Linked DNA regions of Homo sapiens. The protein of the gene in region 3 interacts with the protein of the main gene of each other region in a pairwise test. Each region holds a gene or a part of one and is shown on either strand. Other genes may lie near its edges.

Region 1 (8,513 bases), on a different chromosome or scaffold from region 3:
TATATATACATGTATACATATTATGCATCTTCTATTGATTCTGTTTCTCTGGAGAACCCTGACTAGAACAATACAGTCCTTCTAGGTCTTTCTTGGCCATCATCTATTGAGTTTCCCCTTGGTGGTTCTAAACCTCTCCTCTCTTTTCTACTGGTTCTCACTTTACTGGAGCAATTGAGTCCCTCAGAGTTGTCCTCAGCCTTGTCTCTGCCTCTAAAATCCTCCCTCCTTAGCCCATCCTTCCCACCACCTCTCCTTCTTCTATGACTTCAACCTCTATCTTCGGCATACAAATGTATTCAAGCATTCAAGTCTCTCTTACCTAAACATCACCCCAACCTTAGAGCCCTCTCTAGCCACAGCTCTCCCTCCTTTCCTCCTTTCCCCTTTCCTTTTTTTTTTTTGAGATGGAGTCTCACTCTGTACCCAGGCAGGAGTGCAGTGGGATGATCTCAGCTCACTGCAACCTCCACCTCCCAGGTTCAAGCAATTCTCATGCCTCAGCCTCTCCAATAGCCGGGACTACAGGCACATGCCACCATGTCCGGCTAATTTTTATATTTTTAGTAGAGGTGAGTTTTTGCCATGTTGGCCAGGCTGATCTTAAACTCCTGGCCTCAAGTGATCTGCCCGCCTCAGCCTCCCAAAGTGCTGGGATTATAGGCATGAGCCACCATGCCCGGCCCTCATTGCAAACCTTTTTTTTTTTTTTTTTTTTTTTTTTGAGACGGAGTTTCACTCTTGTTGCCCAGACTGGAGTGCAATGGCGTGATCTCGGCTCACCGCAAACCTCCGCCTCCTGGGTTCAAGTGATTCTCCTGCCTCAGCCTCCCGAGTTAGCTGGGATTACAGGCATGTGCCACCACACCCAGCTAATTTTGTATTTTTAGTAGAGACGGGGTTTCTTTATGTTGGTCAGGCTGGTCTCGAACCCCTGACCTCAGATGATCCACCCTCCTCGGCCTCCCAAAGTGTTGGGATTACAGGTGTGAGCCACGGTGCCCGGCTGCAAAGTTTTCTAATGTCTTCTACATTTAAATTTGCCCTCACTTCTCATTCTATATTAGGCAAAATTCTTTTTTTTTTTTTTTTTTTTTTGAGACAGAGTCTCACACTGTTGCCCAGGCTGGAGTGCAGCAGCGTGATCTCGGCTCACTGCAACCTCCGCCTCCTGGGTTCAAGCGATTCTCCTACCTCAGCCTCCTGAGTAGCTGGAATTACAGGTGCACACTACCATGCCTGGCTAATTTTTGTATTTTTAGTGGAGACGGGGTCTCACAATGTTGTCCAAGCTGGTCTCGAACTCCTGACCTCAAATGGTCCACCCATCTTGGCCTCCCAAAGTGCTGGGATTATAGGCGTGAGCCACTGTGCCTGGCCTGGATTAGGCAGAATTCTTTATGACAGAAACACAACTCAAAATTGTCTTAAGGGGAAAAAAAATAGAATTTATTTGTTCACAGAGCCAAAAAGTACAGAAGTAGATCTTTCACTTCAAGCATGGCTGAATCCAGGTCCTCAATGATACCAACAGGAAGTTGTCTTTCTCACTCTCTGCATTCCTCCATGTTGACCTCATTCTCACTCTCAATCTCTCCTCTTGATGACAAGATGACCACAAGAAGCTCTAAGCTTACACTTTGCCTGCTTGTCAGCTCCAGCAGAAAGAGTTAGCTCTTTCCCTAAGATTCTAGTAACAGTCCTGGAATTGAGCCTCATGAGCCTGGTTTGACTCACTTGTCCATTCCCAATCATTTGGGCAGGGAATGGGATGTTCTAATTGGCCAGGCCTGGGTCACATGGGGGTGGTCCACTCAATCCAAACCACAAAACTGAAAATGAGGAAGAATGGTTCCCCAAAGGAATATTGGAGTGCTGGTATCAGAACAAAGGGAATTGGATGTAGGCAGGCAGAACCAACAGATGTCCACTATGCTTCCATCCCTCAACCTAGTGCAAACTGATTTCCACTCCTGGCATCCACTGACATCTCTCTCACCAAGGTGACCAGGGAACTTGATGGCCAAGAGCATCTGCTCAGCTCTCATTCTTCACCTTTCTGCTAGTCACTCCTTCCTTCTGCAAACTCTGCTTGACTTCCATCACCCAGCTCTAACTGAACCCTCTCCAATCTCTCTGACCCACCCCTCTACCTCCTTCACATATAGCCATCCTCCAAGATTTAGGCCTCAGTCCTTCCCTCTCTAGTCTCCATCTGTGGTCCCACTCTCTCCTATACACACTTCTGTTGGGAGCCGAAAAGGCCAAAGGGATCGTGACCAACTCAGCATTCCACTGGAGGCTATATGATCAAACAGCAAACTGTTTATCATGAATGTAGGATGTGAGCAAACACACTGCACCTGCCACCAAAAGGTTTGCTGATGGACATCACTCCTTGGTGCAGGGCTCCTTGAAGTTATCTAAGAAATCTAGCACCTATTGTTCAAAAGATGCAGTCTCACAAGCCTGCTGTGAACCAAACCTCTAACTGACAATTACCGACAATCACCCCCCCTTTCTCGCTCTCTTTTGCCTACGAAATACGGAGGGATGTGTAAAACTCAGGGCCCTTGTCCACTAGAGGCAAAGTGCCCCCTGACCCCTTCTTCCAAATATACTCTTTTGTCTTGTCTTTTATTCCCATTGCCCACCCACCTTTGTTCAGTCCACCAGGGATCATGGCAGGCTACACACTTCTAGTTCCTGGACATCTTCTAAATCTTCTGTCTCCCAGCAATCACCTGGGCTCCCCCAAAGCCCTCAAACTAATGGTTCTGGCAATTTCACAGATTCATGATTTATGACCCCATCCTTTCCCCTTGCCTTTTTCCCAGCCCGTACCTCTGGTCGGTCACCAAGTTAGTCACTTCCCTACTGGGACCCGCTTTCCCATCAACGCTCCCCACTCAGCTCCATACCTCTGCCCTGCCCAGACCTTCATCATGTCACTCCTGACATCTCTGCCCACAGCCTCTGCCCCATCCATCCTGCAACCAGGGACCCGATTAACCTCCTAAGCAGCAGTTGATCAAAACATTCCTTTATCTGAAACCTTCTATGGTTCCTTATTGCCATTAAGATTCCTTAACATGGAATGCTTTCAGGGCTCCAGAATCTGTCCCCAGATTTTCCTTCAATTATTCATCTTGCTGAGCTCTTCAGACTCCAACTAATTTACTCACTGTCCCCAAAACATGCCAAACATTTTCCCACCTCTGAACTTTTACATGACACTAACATTAGACCCTCATTATTGACTCTTCTAAACGTTCCCCATATTTCAAAACTGAGCTCCAAGCCACCTCTGTGAAATCATCCGTAAACACATCAGCTATTCCTCCAATTTTGAGTGTATACTTGTTTGTTGCTTTTGCATAATATGTAATGCCTCCTCTAGCAAGGGAATCACAGGAGAGTTTCTCCCAAAGTCATGCATTTCCCCAAAAAGAATGCTGTCTGTTCCGGAGCTACTACTGTTGTGAGCAACTAAAAGTTGTCTTCCTTGGGCTCTCTCATAGTAGTCCCTGCCCCTCTTTTCCTCATGAGACTATGTCAAGGCTAATGTGAAAATACTTCATGCACTGTTGCCAATGTATGTTAGGGATGAGCATAAAACAACAGACAAGGGGAAACAGAATCAATTGCAGACCCTAACATTTTAACTTTCTTAAATGTTTTTCTTCAACACTTTCCTATGGTTCATACTTTAAATGACTTTAAAATTATGCTTTAAGTAAATATATGCTTTAAATAATTTTTATTTGCTTCATTTTTCCTTCATAGCTATCCCTTTTTTTTTGTCATCAAAGATATGTGCGTTTTTTATAAAAACACTTTCTTGTCCCCTGCTGACTACCTCTGGAAGCTTCTTGTTGACCTCTGGTTTTTTGGTTTCTTTTTTTGGCTTTTCATTTCTTAGGGTGGTGGTGGTGGTAGTGAAGGAGAGGGGTCTTCTGGTGGCCCCTGCATAAGCACTCCCCCTCAACATGAGCATGATTAACTGGAACCACTGTTATTTCTGTGGTGTAGACAAAATGAGCCATGTAGCTATTAACATCTCCCTGATTTAAAAAGAAACACGGAACTTTCTTTTTCCTGCTGTCCTTAGGGAGGAAAGGTGTAAATATAAGAGACTGTAGCTAGTATCTTGGAAGTCCCCAGGAGACAGGCGTTTCCTCTTGGTCACTGACTCTCTGGGTCACTGACGCTCCTTGAACAGCAGGGCCACCGTGTCTCCCTTTGAAGCAAGTGATCCTTAAGGAATTTTCCAGGTTTAGTAACTTCTGTCTAGCTCCGAAAAGACGTAATGGCTGCAAAAGTGCTTCGTTGAAGAAGATAAGATATATTCATTTTTAAATAAAAATACTTATGGGCGAGAAAAATCGGAGTGGACTGAATCAATTACAGTAAATCTATGGGCTCTAAGGGAGCAAATAATCCAGGCTGGCTGAAAGAATTAAATATTTTAAATTTATAAAGCCAGGGACCCTCAAATCCATAAAAGGATTCAATCTTCTTCTTCTTTTTTTTTAGGATTCAATCTTCTAATAATCCCGGGAGGGGGCGCAAGAGCAGGATTCTTGTTTCTATTTTACGAATGAGGAAACTGAGGTTCAGAAAGCCTAAGTGGCATGCCTCTTCAGTAATCGGCCAATCGTCGCTGCCCTAACTTCACCTCACCTCCCAGTGCAGCACTAGAGTCCCCTCAGGGGTGGCCGTCCCTGGTCAGTCCAGCTCCAGCAGACGGGGTGGGTAGGACGCTCCCTATCAGGCAGCACTTCCGCCTCCCGGGGCCCGCGCAGCTCACCTCCCTCACCTCCCGCCCTACCCCAGTCACGAGTTGTTTTAGGGGGACCGCCCCTCCACTTGCTGATTGGGTAGCTCCTGAACCATTGTTGTCCTCTGATTGGTTGTTCCCTTTTCGGCTCTGCAACACCGCCTAGACCGACCGGATACACGGGTAGGGCTTCCGCTTTACCCGTCTCCCTCCTGGCGCTTGTCCTCCTCTCCCAGTCGGCACCACAGCGGTGGCTGCCGGGCGTGGTGTCGGTGGGTCGGTTGGTTTTTGTCTCACCGTTGGTGTCCGTGCCGTTCAGTTGCCCGCCATGGCTGAGCTGGATCCGTTCGGCGCCCCTGCCGGCGCCCCTGGCGGTCCCGCGCTGGGGAACGGAGTGGCCGGCGCCGGCGAAGAAGACCCGGCTGCGGCCTTCTTGGCGCAGCAAGAGAGCGAGATTGCGGGCATCGAGAACGACGAGGCCTTCGCCATCCTGGACGGCGGCGCCCCCGGGCCCCAGCCGCACGGCGAGCCGCCGGGGGGTCCGGGTGAGAGTGCGGGCGCGTTTGGGGCGAGAGGACTTGTCTGGAAACTCGGTCCACAGTGGGTCCGAGAGCTTCTGTGTGACTCGTGCTCCTTGCTGAATTAGGAGGTTAGGGAGCAGTGCAAACAGGAAACGAGACCCTGGCCCGGTCTTTCAGAAACCTAGGCTCGAGAAGCCTGTTCGGTTCTCAGCATGTTTGAGTGCTTCTGGGCGCGGGCGGAGCGAGAAAGCAAGTGTAGGGTGGCAGGCTCCGGAGCCGGAAGAAGCCCGTTCAATTCAGCAACTTTTCATTAAGCATTTGCTGTGCCTTTAGTCCGGTCTCTGAAGCAACCGCATTGGCGCAGTTTTTCCAGACTTATAAGCTTATAAGTCTGAGCCGAGCACAGAACTCGTTATTAGAAAAGGAGGGCGGAAAAAAATAAGAATGGAAATATCGTTTTTGAGAGATACAAACAAAAGTAGCAATGCAGTTCAGCATTTAAGCACTTAAGGTGTACAGAGTGTTGGATTACGAGGAGGAAGGAGGGAGTAGGGAACTCGAAAGATGATCTAGGTCTGGAGAAAGAACTGCCAAGCGCGGTAGGAGTTTGCTATCGTTGAGCGATTGATTTACAGCTAGGACTTCTGGAGCTCTTCCTCTGGGAACAGCTTTGGTAGGCAATATTGCCTAAGCAGAACCCAAGATTAGCCTAAACCAATCAGGGAGGGATGAAGAGGTGAATAGAGAATGTTCTCAGCCAAACTCAAGTAAAAATGGGGCAGGTAGGATGGCAGTTTGACCTTTGGATGCCTTAACCTGTGTGTGATGCTTAGGATCATGAGTGGAAAAGACCTACTTAATAATACAAAGAAGTAGGAAATTTAGCTAGAAGAAATGAAATACGGCTTTTCATTCACTTAAAAAATTCCAACTAAGGGAGAATAGGGCACTACTGGGGCATATAGGAGTAGTGTCTACCCTAAATTCAAACCTTAAGGAGCCAGGTAGGTAACATATACGAGAGAAGCTGGCTTGACATGAGACAGTAGAAGTGTTGGAGACTGAGGCTTTGCTGCACTATAGTAGTGCTCTGTGTAAAGGCATTCAGATCCAGCAGTCTCAAGTTACTGTGCCAGCCAGGCGGAACCTTTTGATGGATGGGTTGGTGGGTGTGCTGCTAGTTTGCAGCCTCTTGAGTTTTTGACTGCACCATGTTGCTTCCTAAACAAATCAGTCCCCCAATAAGAACTTAGTGGGAACATGTAATATGCCCGAATATGCAACTTTATAGCGGGTAGGTTGGACTAAACTAGGCTGTGATTGTGAGATGAAGTTGGCCTTAAGTGATTAGGGGATATTTTCATTGGGTGGTCTCTAACATTTGTCTGAGAATTTTAAAATTGACTTCTTAGACCCTTAGTTTAACCTTCCTCATTTAATAGAAGAGAAGCAATCCTAGAGAGAAACGACTTGCTTAAAAAAGCACGAGTTAATAGCTGAGCCCCAAGTCTACCCACTCTTAGAATATACCACATTCTGTTGCAGTGTTTAGTTGTTTTAGCAGGGGTGTAGTGCGATAACAGACAGGCAGCTGTGGCTGTCCCAGGTGGAACAGATTTGGGAGAAGCAGAACCCAAGATCTGTAGTTGGAAGATTGTCCTGATTCAAGGACAGTGTTACCCTTACTGTTTTATCTCCACTGCCTAGCAGTGTGTCTGACATGTAGTAGATGCTCACGTTTGACAAAGAAATGGGCAAAAATGTCAGATCCAAGGGTCCTATGTAGAACTGACAGATCTTGGTGACGGGCAGTTAGGGAAGGTAAAAGGGAGAGAATAGAGTTGGATGCTCGGTCCTTTGTGCATCAAGCCTTCGGCAAAGGGAAGGAAAGAAATGGTTGCTGACTTAGTTCCTAGGAGGGACTTTCTTAGTGAACTAAGCATTTGGTGACTTAAAGCCAGATTCCTGACAGTGTAATTGAAGTTGGTAATATGCAGTGGTCAGCATTTCCTTTGGAGTTTAGAGAACTGATTGGACACTTTTTCTCTCTTAGTTTTCTTTTTCCTTCTTTTTTTTTTTTTTTAAAGATATGCTCTAGTGGTTAAGATTCTATGCTATCCTAAACTGCTTGAGTGTGAGTTTAGCTTTGTGATCTCAGACAATGTATATAACTACCACCACTGCCCGGCCTCAGTTTTCTCCTTTGTAAAAGTTGCATAATATAATTTATAATGCTATGTGGCATCTTTAGGATTACATTAAAGAGTGTCTATAAAGTGCTTACAGTTATATTAAGTATCTAGTGAATTCCAGCTACTATTAGTGGGAGAAAGGAGTTACAAGGCCTTTAGGCTTTGAAGTGTACTGAGTAAATTGAGGTTTTAGGCGGGAGCTCTCTTTCTGATGTATTATACAGAGATATATAGGCAGTCAGCTATGACAGATTGATGAGAGGAAAATAAACTGGCCCCAGCCTTGCGGAAAGCGTCTATGGAGGATGGGCACAGGCAAAAACCAGAGGGGTTAGGGCTAAGCCTTGGATGACTCCTTTGGTTGTTAAGAGATCCAGAAAAGAGACGTAGGTTTAGAGGCAGGAAGAAACCAGCTGGGTGAAGTGATATTGAGGTAACCAGCTGTGGGGGATATTGAGGAAGAACAGGTGGTCATGAAGGAGGCAGCACAAGTGGAGCTGTTGAAAAGCTCTCAATCATGAGGGCTGAGTCGGGGAAGAGAACAGGAGAGACAAGCCACAGAGAGAGTACAGCAGTAAGGCACTATTATGGTGTTTTGTTGTTTTTGAGACAGTCGCTCTGTCACCCAGGCTGGAGTGCAGTGGTGCGATCTCGGTTCACTGCAACCTCCGCCTCCTGGGTTCAAGCAGTTATCCTGCCTCAGCCTCCCGAGTAGCTGGGATTACAGGCGCCCACCACCGTGCCCAGCTAACTTTTTGTATTTTTAGTAGAGACGGGGTTTCACCATGTTGGCCAGACTGGTCTGAAACTCCTGACCTCAGGTGAGCCACCCGCCTTGGCCTCCCAAAGTGCTGGAATTACAGGTGTGAACCACCGCACCCGGTGACAAGTTATTTCTTGTAGGAGAAGAAAGAGACATGGGTGAATTAAAGGGAAGCTTTCTGGAGAAGTAATTTTATTGGTAGCAGTGGTGGAGGGAAGTTTAGGGAAATCTCATGCATGATAGTTAATTGTACTGCA
Region 2 (8,178 bases), on a different chromosome or scaffold from region 3:
ACAAAAATACCAGGCCGGGCGCGGTGGCTCACGCCTGTAATCCCAGCCCTTTGGGAGGCCGAGGCGGATGGATCACAAGGTCACAAGATCGAGGCCATCCTGGCTAACACAGTGAAACCCCGTCTCTACTAAAAATACAAAAAATTAGCCGGGCGTGGTGGCAGGCACCTGTAGTCGCAGCTACTCGGGAGGCTGAGGCAGGAGAATGGCGTGAACCGGGGAGGTGGAGCTTGCAGTGAGCCGAGATTGCACCACTGCACTCCAGCCTGGGCTACAGAGCAAGACTCCGTCTCAAAACAAAAACAAAAACAAAAACAAAAATACCATAAACTGAGTGACTTATAAACAACAGAAATTTCCCACAGGCTGCAGGTCAGGAAGTCCAAGGTCAAGGCACTGACTGATTCGGTGTCTGGTGAGGTTCTGCTTCCTGGTTCAAAGACGGTGCCTTCTCACATAGACAATGCCACCTCATGTGGTGGGAGGAGCAAGGGTCTCTCTGGGGCCTCTTGTATAAGGGCACTAATCTCATTCGTGAGGGCTCCACACCCATGGCCTCATCACCTCCCAAAGGCCCTGCCTCCCAACACCAGCACCTTTGGGAAGAGGATTTCTGCATTTGAATTTGGGGGGACACAAACATTTAGACCACAGTGGGGCATGGCATTTCTATCAGAAAGGTCTGCATTTTCTCCAGGCCCTCGGGTTGCCTGGGATCCTCATCTCTGGCTTCAGACCATGACCTTAAAGAGCATCCCCTTTTCCTTCTTTCAGGGCAAGGTAAGCTCAAGCTCTCGGGGGCTTGGAAACCAGGGAGGTATGCCTCCAGCCAAGAGTAGCTCTTCAGCCAGGGACGTGCATGGCAGGGGTCAGCAAGGCTTCTGGGGCTTGGGTGTCTACTCTCAGCAAGCACATGAGATGGGATGGCAGCAGTGCCTATCACATGGGGGTTTATCCTGCATTGGGCGGTTCTGAGTGTGAAATGGGATCTAAATGCACTCATGCACATGCACTCTCATAGATGCATTTTCTCATTAAAATCATTTATTAGGTGGGGCATGGTGGCTTATACCTGTAATTCCATCAATCTGGGAGGCTGAGGCTGAAGGATTACTTGAGGCCAGGAGTTTGGGACCAGCCTGGGCAACATAGTGAGACCCTGTCTCAAAAAAAAAAAAAATTTAAGCATTTATTAGCCACACCTCAGTGCCAGGTCTGGCAACAATTTAGCCGTTGTTGTGCTCTCCAGGAGCCCACATTACAGGTAGGAGAGTTGTAAACTGCTTCAGATGCAGGGCAGTAACTGCTGTAACAATTAATAGTGGTAATGACAGCAGTAACAGGCATTGGACACCTGTCAGGCCCCAGACGCCGCCGTGATCCTCATCACCACCCTTAGAGCTGGGGTTTGCGGCTCCTTCCATGCATAGGGAGTTGAGGCTTGCAAAAGGGTCACACAGCCAGGTGAGGTGGAACTGGAGTTTGAACCCAGGACTGTGTGGACCAGAGCTCTTATCTGTTACAGTCTACTGCATGAGGGAGTAGAAAAGGGCTTGGAAACCCAAAGGAGGGACTGCCCCATCTGGAGGAGTGAGGGAATGCTTCCTGGAGGAGGTGATGCCTGGGTGGGGGTCGTGGCCTCACCTCTCCTTGTGATAAAATCAAGGGCAGGAGGCTGCCAGCAAATAGTTTCTGTTAGTCCGGCCATGACTTGAGGGTGGTGACGATCCACACGTGGGCCTTCAGGTGGGGCTGCCCATCTCCCAGGGCAAGGACAGTGGCCTTTAGCATGCCAGTCACCTTCCTGCTAGTCCAGACCCTTCACACTTGAAGCTCCCAGGGGACCGCAGGACCCATTCATCACATTTTAGGGACATGGTGTCTTGCTGCCCACAATGCTGATTCAGCCTCTGCCCTGCAGCACTGCTCCCGCCCAGGCCAGCGGGCCCTTATGCTTGCTTTCCGGGGCAGGCTGCACACTTACCTGTGGTGTAGGCGCGGCATCTAGTGGACACTGTGAGAACTTCACCCAGCTAGCTGGCACCCAGCCCAGGCGTAGCTCTTGCCACTCAGGAAGCCCTCCCTGGTGCAGAGCAGGGACTTGGAAAGTGCCTGTTGGATGACTGTCTGGGAAGCTATGTGGGGAGATGAGGAAGGTGGGAGACACAGATGTTTACCTTTGCCAGCTCCCACCTACCCCTCATCCTCCACAGGTACCCAGCCCTCTGTCCCCTGCCAGCCCGTTTCTCCTGAAGTGTGGGACCCTCTGGGCCTTCCTAATGTCTCTTGCTTTTGCACAATGTTGACAATGTGGTTCCACGTCCCACATCTCCCTTCATCCCCACAGCAGCCCTGGGAGTTAGGGGAATATCATTATTCCAGTGTAAGAAGAAACAGACCCAAGGACAGCTAATGGACCAGTGGTCTGCTCGTAAACCTAGTCTGGCAGGTGATCTCTTCTTTGCTGGTGGTTCTGGGCAGTGTGAGAGGTGCAGGCTCAAGGGGCATCTGAGTGAGAACCTCATCCATGCCGAGATGGAGGGTGGGAGGCAGAGCTGCTCCTGCCTTTGCTCACTCCAGCCCATGCCCGCAGCTCCTGTGCAGAGAGGGACGAGTGGTATGGCTGTCTGAGCAGAGCCCTCCCTGAGGACTACAAGGCCCAGGCGCTGGCTGCATTCCACCATAGCGTGGAGGTGAGTGGGTGGGCAGGGCCCACGGGCCACCAGCTTCAGAGACCTGGGGTTCCCTGGGCGGGCATTGCTGTTGCCACTCACACCCAGATGGACGTGTAGCTCCTGTCTTGGGGCACTGGCTCCCCCCACACCCCTGCCATGCTCCCACCCTAGTCAGGGGCGGCCTCCGTGTAACCTAGGAGCCCAGCACCCACAGTCTTGTTCTCACAGTCTGGCTGTTTCCCAACCAAGGGTGAGCATCCTGGAGGGTGCAGGAGAGGCCTTTCACATCAGACCCACTCACCCACACATCACACACCCTGCACAGAGACGCAGGGCAGGGCTCACTGGGCTCTGCATCTGGCTGGTCTCCTGGCCACATTCCACATTACTCAGCCAATTCTGTTGCTGCAGATACGAGAGAGGCTGGGGGTTAGCCTTGGGGAGAGGCCCCCCACCCTGGTGCCTGTCACACACGTCATGATGTGCATGAACTGCGGCTGCGACTTCTCCCTCACCCTGCGGCGTCATCACTGTCACGCCTGTGGCAAGGTGAGTCGCTGCATCTGGGGTGAGTGTGTGCATGGGGGTGGGGTGGGGGAAGGGCATGTCCCTGCCCAGCCGGGGGCTCAGGGATGTCCAGCAGCTACTGTAAGCCCCAGAGTGAGGCATGTTCACACCAACCCGAGAGGAACAGATTGCTAATTCCCATTTTATAGATCATCAAACCAGAGCTCCAAGTCCCAGGCCTCTTCCACACCACCACGTTTTCAACAGAAAACCGTAGCATACGTGGCTATTGTGCTTGGAGAAAAAAGTATCATGTAGTGGTTAAGGGCGCGGGCTCATCAGAAAAGCAGATAGGCGCTGGCTCAGAAACAAGATGAAGCCTTGCCGGAAAAGTAGGGGACACGCACAGCTCCATGATCAGAACCTGGGGCTCCCTAGGGGCAGTTGTGGGTGGATTAGCAGAGGGAGCGGAGGGGAGGGGTGCAGGTCTCCTTTGCATGCACTGAGAGGGGTGAGAATCTTCCCACCTGGGCCTGCAGATCGTGTGCCGGAACTGTTCGCGGAACAAGTACCCGCTGAAGTACCTGAAGGACAGGATGGCCAAGGTCTGCGACGGCTGCTTCGGGGAGCTGAAGAAGCGGGGCAGGGCTGTCCCGGGCCTGATGAGAGGTAACCTGGGGACCACTTGCCTTCTTCCAAGTGGCCTGGTGGCTTCTCCCCAGGCTCCAGTGGCTTCTCTGTGGTCCATGGTTCATGCCTGAAACCGCTTTCCCTGGAGGGAGTTATTCACTCCATGGAGGGAGGAAACAGAGGTTCGGGCACCATTTTCCAATATGTGGATTCTGTGGAAAATTGATCGGTGTCCCCAGAAGAAGAGCTCTGTGGGTAGCTAAGCTTAGGAATCAGTGTGTGTGTAAGGGGACAGAGGCAGGGAGCTCCTGTGTCCTTTACCATAGAGGCCCTCTTGTCAAGTATCCTATAGGCCTGTGCCTGTAGCGCCTTTCTGGGACTAAGGACTATATAAGCGTGGCAGCAGAGGAGCTGGGGTCAGGGAGGGGTGAAGCTGTTCCACACAGGAGCCTTGGGAAGCTGAGCCGGCCCCTGAGAGACCTGGTCAGTGCTGAAGGGACAGGCCTTGCCCAAGCAGGGTCAAGTTCCCAGGAAGGAGAGCAGGTGTATCTTGGGCCTAAAACTAAAGTCTTTCCCTGGCCTCCACTCCACGGGGCTGGACTAAGGTCATCAGAGAAGACAGCCCAGTCCCTGCTACCTGGAGGCCTGGAGGTGAAGGGCTGTCCAGCGCCCTGGAAAAGCGTCCCCTCCCCAGCCCCCATAGCCTTTGTCTGTTCCTGCAGGAGGGAGGGAGGAAGAGTGCTTGACTTTCAGGTCCCACTTAACCCCCATGGCTCACATTCCTAGAGGGATTTTACAGGAATCAGTGTTCCAAAGACAAGCCGCAGGCACGCCTCTCACCTCCCTTCCATGTGGCTTCTTTCAGTTACAGAGCGGCCTGTGAGCATGAGCTTCCCGCTGTCTTCACCCCGCTTCTCGGGCAGTGCCTTTTCATCCGTCTTCCAGAGCATTAACCCCTCGACCTTCAAGAAGCAGAAGAAAGTCCCTTCAGCCCTGACAGAGGTAAAGCAGGCAGGGCTACCCAAGTGGGAAGTAGGGCATTTGGAAGGTTCATGGTCATCCTGGGTAGACGGAGTCAGACCCTGCCCTGTCCCAGCCTGACCAGTCTCTTCCAGACAGAGCATTCCTAATGGAAGCATCCCAGCTACGAGGACCGACTTGACAGTGATGGTGCTAGGCGACATCTTTCCCATCCTTCTCTCTACCTCTCCCCTCCTCCTCTTTCTTTTCTCTCCTTTTTCTCCTGCCCCATAGCTTAGATCTAGTACCCAAGCAGACTGCACAGATCACGGGGGCTCTTCATTCTAAAGGAGCCAAATTCCTGTGTTGGTCCTTCCATGTCATCCCCTCATCCTAGGGGTCCCAACCCGGCTCAGGTGTTGACGTCCCTGGAGGCCATGGGCTCCGCAGGAAACTTCAGAACTGGCTAAACTCAATTGTATCCCACAAATAGGACCAGATTGTATGTCTGTATTTCCATTCACAACCACAGACCAATGTATGTCTGTGAATACACAAGGAGTCCACAAGTGTGATCAGCTGCTTCCAAGTTAGTCCATTAATATCAAGTAGCAGGTAGCAAGGGTTTAAAAAAGTGTTAGGGAATGGAAAATTTAAATAGGTACAGTTTTATCCATTAACTTGTTCCTTTTGCAAATTAAAAATCTTGGAAATCACACATACGGCCGGGCGCGGTGGCTCACGCCTGTAATCCCAGCACTTTGGGAGGCTGAGGTGGGCAGATCACGAGGTCGGGAGATCCAGACCATCTTGGCTAACACAGTGAAACCCCATCTCTACTAAAAATACAAAAATCAGCCGGGTGTGGTGTCATGCAGCTGTAGTCCCAGCTACTCGGGAGGCTGAGGCAGGAGAATCGCTTGAACCTCAGGGAGGTGAAGGTTGCAGTGAGCTGAGATGGCGCCACTGCACACCAGCCTGGCGACACAGCAAGACTCTGTCTCAAAAAAAAAAAAAAAAAAAAAAAAAAAACACATACATGGTTAAACATTTTTCCCAAAAAAGTACAAAACAGCACATATGATGAAAAGTGAGTTTCTCATCCTTCCCAGCCTCCCTCAATCCCACTGCCATCAAGTTTCTTATGGAACCTTGTGGAAATTTTCATGCACATACATAATACAGATGTACATTCATAGATCTTCTTTTTCTACCCAGAAGACAACATATTATACAGAATCTCTTCTGTTTTCTCCACTTAATTTGTCTTAGAGATCATTTCATAATCACATATATGTATAAACCTCACATTTTTTACATTGCATTCCTCTTTTACTAGTAAGGAAATTGAGACTTAGAAGAAGTCAGCAAATTGCTCATCATTAACCACCTAGTAATTGGTAGAGCCTGAATGGGAAATCCAGGTTGGTATTAACTCCAAGCCTGCGTTCCTCACCACATAAAGCCTGTGGACAGAATACTACTACCCCCCGCCACCACAAAGAGTAGTAATAATAATAAAAGGACTTAACGCTGCACACACCCCACTAGGCAGGAGACTATAATACCTTTTAGGCAACAGTACAAAGAGGATCCCTCCCTAAATGTGAGGAAGAGATAAGTTGAAAGTGCAAGAGTTAATTTTAGAAGGAAGAACCTTTCGCCGAAGTACCTGAACGAAGTTTCTTGAGTTGAGGGGCTTAGGTTGAGAGGGAACCAAGAATCTGAAAAACCACTAGAGGGCAGCATCAGCATTCCCAAAGTCAGCTGGGTCCATTCATTAAATCCTGTTTCTCAAAGCATGAAGCACTATCTTGCTGACTTTGGTACTGGATAGATCCTGAGACCTTATCCAGTGTCAAAGCAGTATAAGTAGTCAGCCAAATGGTTTGCAGTGTCATTTTGAATTGTGCTCTGTTTGAACTGTGCCTGACCACCGGGGTGGGCTGACCGCTCTGCTTCCCTCCTGCCAGGTGGCTGCCTCTGGAGAGGGCTCTGCCATCAGTGGCTATCTCAGCCGGTGTAAGAGGGGCAAGCGGCACTGGAAGAAGCTCTGGTTTGTCATCAAAGGCAAAGTTCTCTACACCTACATGGCCAGTGAGGTAGTAGTGATCTGCACTCTCTCCCCTCTCCTCTCTCCTGTGAAATGACCCCCTGGGGCCTGCACACATCCTGTCACTTGCAAAGCTGTGTGAGTCCTGGCTGCTGAGCCAGTTCTGGTGGCAGTCAAGTCTTTAGTGAGCAATGCCATGTGCTCAATGTTGCTGTGGCTACACAACCACATATCACTTCAAAATCTAAGGAATTTGCAGTTTCTTTGTGGATATAAGAAGGTACGGACATGCCAAGCTGTGCCGCAAAGTGTTTAAATGGCACAGGCCCAGCATCTAGGACAAAGATGGAACAAGCCAGCCATGCCACAAAAGAAAACACCTTCCTACTGTCTGCTTAGATTGCTTGGGGCAAAATTCAGCAGTGTGGAGGAAGCTACTCCCTTTTTGTCTGTCCATTTCTTTTATAGGGTAACTCTAGTAATTCTTCTAAAGAAAACTGAAATCTATATTTTATAGAATATCTTACTTTAGGTGAGAGAGCCTTGGAAATCAAGCTTACTTCCAGAGTAGACAGATGTGTGGCCATGGTTGTGTAGCAGGGTGCTGTCTGGCCCTGACCCAGGCTGAACCTGTTGGATAATGTGAAACATTTCTATCTCCATGCTTCACCAGCTGGTGGCTTCTAGGTGGTCAGGCATAGTTTCAGCTTTGAAAATGGGAGTTAAATGTATTCTGACGAGCTGCAGAGGGTGGGTGCTTTGCTCCACTGGGATATGCATGTCAGGGCTGGCTCTTCTCCCCTGGCCACAGATGCTAGCAAATGTGCAAAAGGCACTTCCTTCTTTGGGGCATGAAGCTTCCCTCTGGAAGGACCTGCAACTGTGAAGGTTGCCGTGTGCCCATTCCCAGGGATCACAGAGGATGGCTTTCTAGAAGAAATTGCTTTGGAGCCATACTTAAACACTTAGCAAGGCCCCACATCTGTTTACTCTAAGCAAAGCAGGCAGACAGGGGATCTGCCATAGGCCTGAGCGGCTTGGGTACCCGGTAAGCTGCACCCCACCCTGAGGGGCCTTTGCCTGTGTCCACAGGTGGGGTCTTCCACACTGTGGGGGATTTTTATCTTTCCAAAACAAACTGAACAGTTGTCATGGAAGTGACAGCATAAGCTTATTTTAAAAGGTGGATTTAGGGGCCTGGCATGGTGGTTCACGCCTGTAATCCCAGGACTTTGGGAGGCTGAGGATCTCTTGAGGCCAGGAGTTCGAGACCAGCCGGAGCAACATAGTGAAACCCTATCTCAACGAAAAATAAAATGAATGAATGAATGAATGAATGAATGATGGACTTAA
Region 3 (3,929 bases):
TGGGGGCACCCGCAGCCAGGCCTGAGAGCTTCTCCGAATGGGGCACGTGAGGCCCTGGACTGCCCCTTGTCCTGGGAAAGTCAGCAGAGAGCTCAGGGCTCTGGGAGTGGGGATCCTCACTGCCCTCTGTTGCACCCCCTTCCCGGCCCCACACACCCGCACCATGGAGCACCAGGGCCAAACTTCTCCTGGTGTCTCTGTCCCCAGGTGGCTCTTTTGGATTTTGGGGCAACGCGGGAATATGACAGATCCTTCACCGACCTCTACATTCAGGTAACTGGAGAGGGGCCCTGGCCTTGGTCCATGTTTTTCTGAGGCTGGGACAGGATGCTGGGGGACTCGGGGTAGGGAGAATGACTGGGTTCCTGCCCTTGTGTCCCCATCTGCGCTGCCTGCCCCTCAGGTCTGGTGACAGCAGGCAGTTAGGCTGACAGCTGCCAGGCGTGGTGTCACAGCACTGGCCGGGGGCCCTGTGCAGGGAGAGGATGAGGGTGGGGTGGGCTCGGGTGTGGCACTTGGCTCCCTGGGATGTCGGGAGCTGAGCTTTTCATGCTGCCCACGGTCCCCTCCTGTGCCTCTCCCCAGATCATCAGGGCTGCTGCCGACAGGGACAGGGAGACTGTGCGGGCGAAATCCATAGAGATGAAGTTCCTCACCGGCTACGAGGTCAAGGTGAGCAGGGTTGCGGGGGATCCCCTGGGCCTGCTGACCCAGGGCCCGGCTCCCTGTGTAAGAATGGATGAAAGCACAGGGGGCAGCTGCCCTCAAGGGGCCCCCAGAGCCCGGGCCTCCTTGGGCACGGTCTGAAAGCTGGGGCCCACCCCGGCCCATGCTGCCCTGCTGAGCGTGAGATTTTCCGAGTGGGCCAGTGAGTTGGGGACTTGTCGTGAAGCTCTTGTTTCTGCCTCTCACTCTTGCCCACTTAGGGCTTGGGGTTGGGCCTCGATTGAGCCAACGTGCAGAGCAAGTGGGAAGGGAAGCCCCAGCCCTCCCCTCATCGAGCCTCCCTGGGGGGAGTTGGAAGAAACCTTAGAAGCCTTTTAAATAAAGGGGAACGGTCTGTGCTGGTGCCGCCTGAAGCCACCCACAAAGTGGCATTTTCCGCTTGCTGCTTGACAGTGGGGAAGGAGTTAAAGAAATCCAGGTCAAGCCTTGGGTCTGCCGTCTCATAGGAGTGTCATTTGAGGCTTGTCAGTATCTCTGAGCCCCCCTTATCTCAGCTGTAAGCGCTCAGCGGGCAGCAGCTCTCTCCCGCCTCTTCCTTATGGCCACTCGCACTGACTCGATTCCTGGCCGCCCCGTCCCTCTGACCACCTTGGGCTGTCCCTGGCGGCAGCTCCTCTCCCCTGCTCTGCTGGCGGCGGCTTCCTTAGGTTGCTAGTTCCCGTGGGCAGACACACGGCTGCTGGGTGTGTCTTGGGTGGACTCTGGCAGGCTCAGACACGCATGGTGGGAGGCCCTGCCAGCTTAGGCCCACGGACTCTGTTCTTTTTGGCCAGAACAGTGTTTTGTTAAAACTCTGTATGAGTGCCACGAGGCGGGACGCATCCTCTGCACTCTGCCACAGGCCCCGCCACTCCCTTTTGTATCACATCAGCCCAGTCCATGTTACCCTCGTGTTCCCGGCCCCTGTGGGTTTGAGTTTATGCCCATTACCATGATGTAATCCAGTTTACAGCAGAGCTTTGAATGAGAACTCAGCGCCCCGGGCACTGTGGGAGGAACCCGGGCTGGTGGAGGGCTCTGGTGTCTCGCCGCCATTTATCCTTCCTCTCTTGCCCCAGGTCATGGAAGACGCCCACTTGGATGCCATCCTCATCCTGGGGGAGGCCTTCGCCTCTGATGAGCCTTTTGATTTTGGCACTCAGAGCACCACCGAGAAGATCCACAACCTGATTCCCGTCATGCTGAGGCACCGTCTCGTCCCCCCACCCGAGGAAACCTACTCCCTGCACAGGAAGATGGGGGGCTCCTTCCTCATCTGCTCCAAGCTGAAGGCCCGCTTCCCCTGCAAGGCCATGTTCGAGGAGGCCTACAGCAACTACTGCAAGAGGCAGGCCCAGCAGTAGGGCTGCGGGCCACGCCCAGGCCGGCTCCGCGGGAACTCTCTCCCTCAGACAGGCCAAAAACCAGTAGCGAGGTCGTGGTGATGCTCTTTTTAACTCCTTTGCCCAATAAGGGGGGTGGCTGCCTGGAGCCCCGTAGCCAGCGCTTTCCACGGTTTCTGTTGCTAAATGGTTGTAGGGTGAGAAGTGCAAGAATGAAGATGAAGCCCCACTGCTCGGTCAGTCTGCCTCCGTGTGTCCTCTGAAATAAGCAGATGAAGATGAAAGGGCAACTTTGTTTTCTTCTTTTTCCTGATGTGAATGTTAAGCAGAAGGGAGAGAGTCCTTACTCCCTTCCAATCTCTGTTCAGTGCAAAACCCAGAAACATGAACAGATACGATTGTGGGATTTTATCATCTGTGTAGTAGGTGTGTGTATGTGTTTCTAGAGTGAGATTTGTGTTTTCTGCCCTTTTCCTCTCCAGCCGATGGGCTGGAGCTGGGAGAGGTGCTGAGCTAACAGTGCCAACAAGTGCTCCTTAAGCCTGCGAGGCCCAGGCCTGTGGGGCTGGTTCTCACCTTTGACAGCTGAATGTTCCTAAAGAACTGCTGCCCCACAGTGAGGGTGGGAGCAGCGGAACAGGGAATGCCAGACACAGGCTCGCTGCTGCTGGAAGGCGGGGTGGGACTTCCTTCCTCTGTCCGGAGAGGCACAGGTGTCACCAGTTCCAGCCAAAGGCTCCTCACAGGCGCTGTGAATTTTTGTACAAGTCTTGTAATTATCGAATCAACAACTTGTTTCAATTTAATAAAAATGCTCATGGGAAGTGCTTTGGCGCGTGTACCCTCTTCTGTATTCTGGAGAATGACGACCCGTATCTTCTAGCTCGTGGTGGTGGTTCTTTTCTGACCTGACGGTCAGCAGGTTCAGTGTCACAGCCCATTTGCAAGGGTTGGGACTGGTTCAGCGTGAGGCCCTTGGCCCTGAACCTGGAAGGCTCAGCCCCGTTCCCTGTAAGAAGGGAGGTGGGAGGGGTGGAGAACAGGAGGAGAGGTTGCGGTGTCACTGCCCCAGCCCCCGGGAGGCTGTACCACACTGCTGAAGCTGCTGTACCTGGTGATGGTGGCAACTGGGAGGACAGTGACACCTGCCAGCACGGCTGATGCCAGGTCTGCATCACAGTGAGACGTCTCCTCTCTAGACATCAGCTGCAGTTGAGGACCACGTCCTGAAAAGTGGCTTTTCCTGGGGCCAGACTGATTCCTAGATAACAGGACACACTGGACACTGAGCTGGGGCCCTTTCTACGGACCTGTGAGCAGTTGAAAGTGCATCTGCAGAATGCACAGGCCCAAAAGAGGCTTTGAGAGGTATAGGCTTTCAGGGTTCTTAAAGAAAGAAAATATAGTTTCTGAAATTTGGGATTGCCGAGTAGCAGACCCAGTGGGCTCCGGGACAGGATGGAGAGGCCTGGGTGGCGTCCGTGAGGCTGCCTGGCTAGCAGCGGCGCCCAGCACCACTGTCAGATCCCTGGCTGAAACTCTTGTGGCCCTCTTCTTAAGGGTATTTGCTGTTGTCTAGCAAACTCCTCTGCAGCACTCAGATCTGAAGCCATCGCCCTGCAGAGTAAACAGCAGGGGAAGAACCCAGGCCAGCCCCAGCCAGGGCTCTCACAGTCTCCTCTTCCTCTTGAACAACAAGCCAAACAAGTCAAGCAGCAGCATGCGGGGGGAAGGGAGAGGAGAACAACAGCAGCCAGCATTTGCTTCCCCAGGAACCACGACCATAACTGCTGGAACAGGAGAAGTTTTCTAAGGGAAAACTGGAATGTGGTTTGTGTGTCCTAAGTCTGAGAGCCGGCTGAGAACTAGAGCCCTCCCTGT

Evidence for each region.
Region 1: the proteins of COQ8A (region 3) and CLTA interact in binary tests that used the Homo sapiens proteins (3 or more experiments, as listed by UniProt).
Region 2: the proteins of COQ8A (region 3) and FGD5 interact in binary tests that used the Homo sapiens proteins (3 or more experiments, as listed by UniProt).

What each region holds. Positions count from the first base shown.
Region 1 is NC_000009.12:36,185,949-36,194,461, forward strand, and holds the start of CLTA (clathrin light chain A), read left to right. Parts: upstream 1-4,972; 5' UTR 4,973-5,108; coding exon 5,109-5,325; intron 5,326-8,513. UniProt on the Homo sapiens protein: Clathrin is the major protein of the polyhedral coat of coated pits and vesicles.
Region 2 is NC_000003.12:14,919,325-14,927,502, forward strand, and holds part of FGD5 (FYVE, RhoGEF and PH domain-containing protein 5), read left to right. Parts: intron 1-1,022; exon of another isoform or gene 1,023-1,159; intron 1,160-1,388; exon of another isoform or gene 1,389-2,135; intron 2,136-2,593; coding exon 2,594-2,693; intron 2,694-2,976; exon of another isoform or gene 2,977-3,086; coding exon 3,087-3,224; exon of another isoform or gene 3,225-3,721; coding exon 3,722-3,851; exon of another isoform or gene 3,852-4,024; intron 4,025-4,652; exon of another isoform or gene 4,653-4,677; coding exon of another isoform or gene 4,678-4,683; coding exon 4,684-4,814; intron 4,815-6,745; coding exon 6,746-6,874; intron 6,875-8,178. UniProt on the Homo sapiens protein: Activates CDC42, a member of the Ras-like family of Rho- and Rac proteins, by exchanging bound GDP for free GTP. Mediates VEGF-induced CDC42 activation.
Region 3 is NC_000001.11:226,984,669-226,988,597, forward strand, and holds the end of COQ8A (atypical kinase COQ8A, mitochondrial), read left to right. Parts: intron 1-207; coding exon 208-273; intron 274-585; coding exon 586-672; intron 673-1,784; coding exon 1,785-2,069; 3' UTR 2,070-2,876; downstream 2,877-3,929. UniProt on the Homo sapiens protein: Atypical kinase involved in the biosynthesis of coenzyme Q, also named ubiquinone, an essential lipid-soluble electron transporter for aerobic cellular respiration.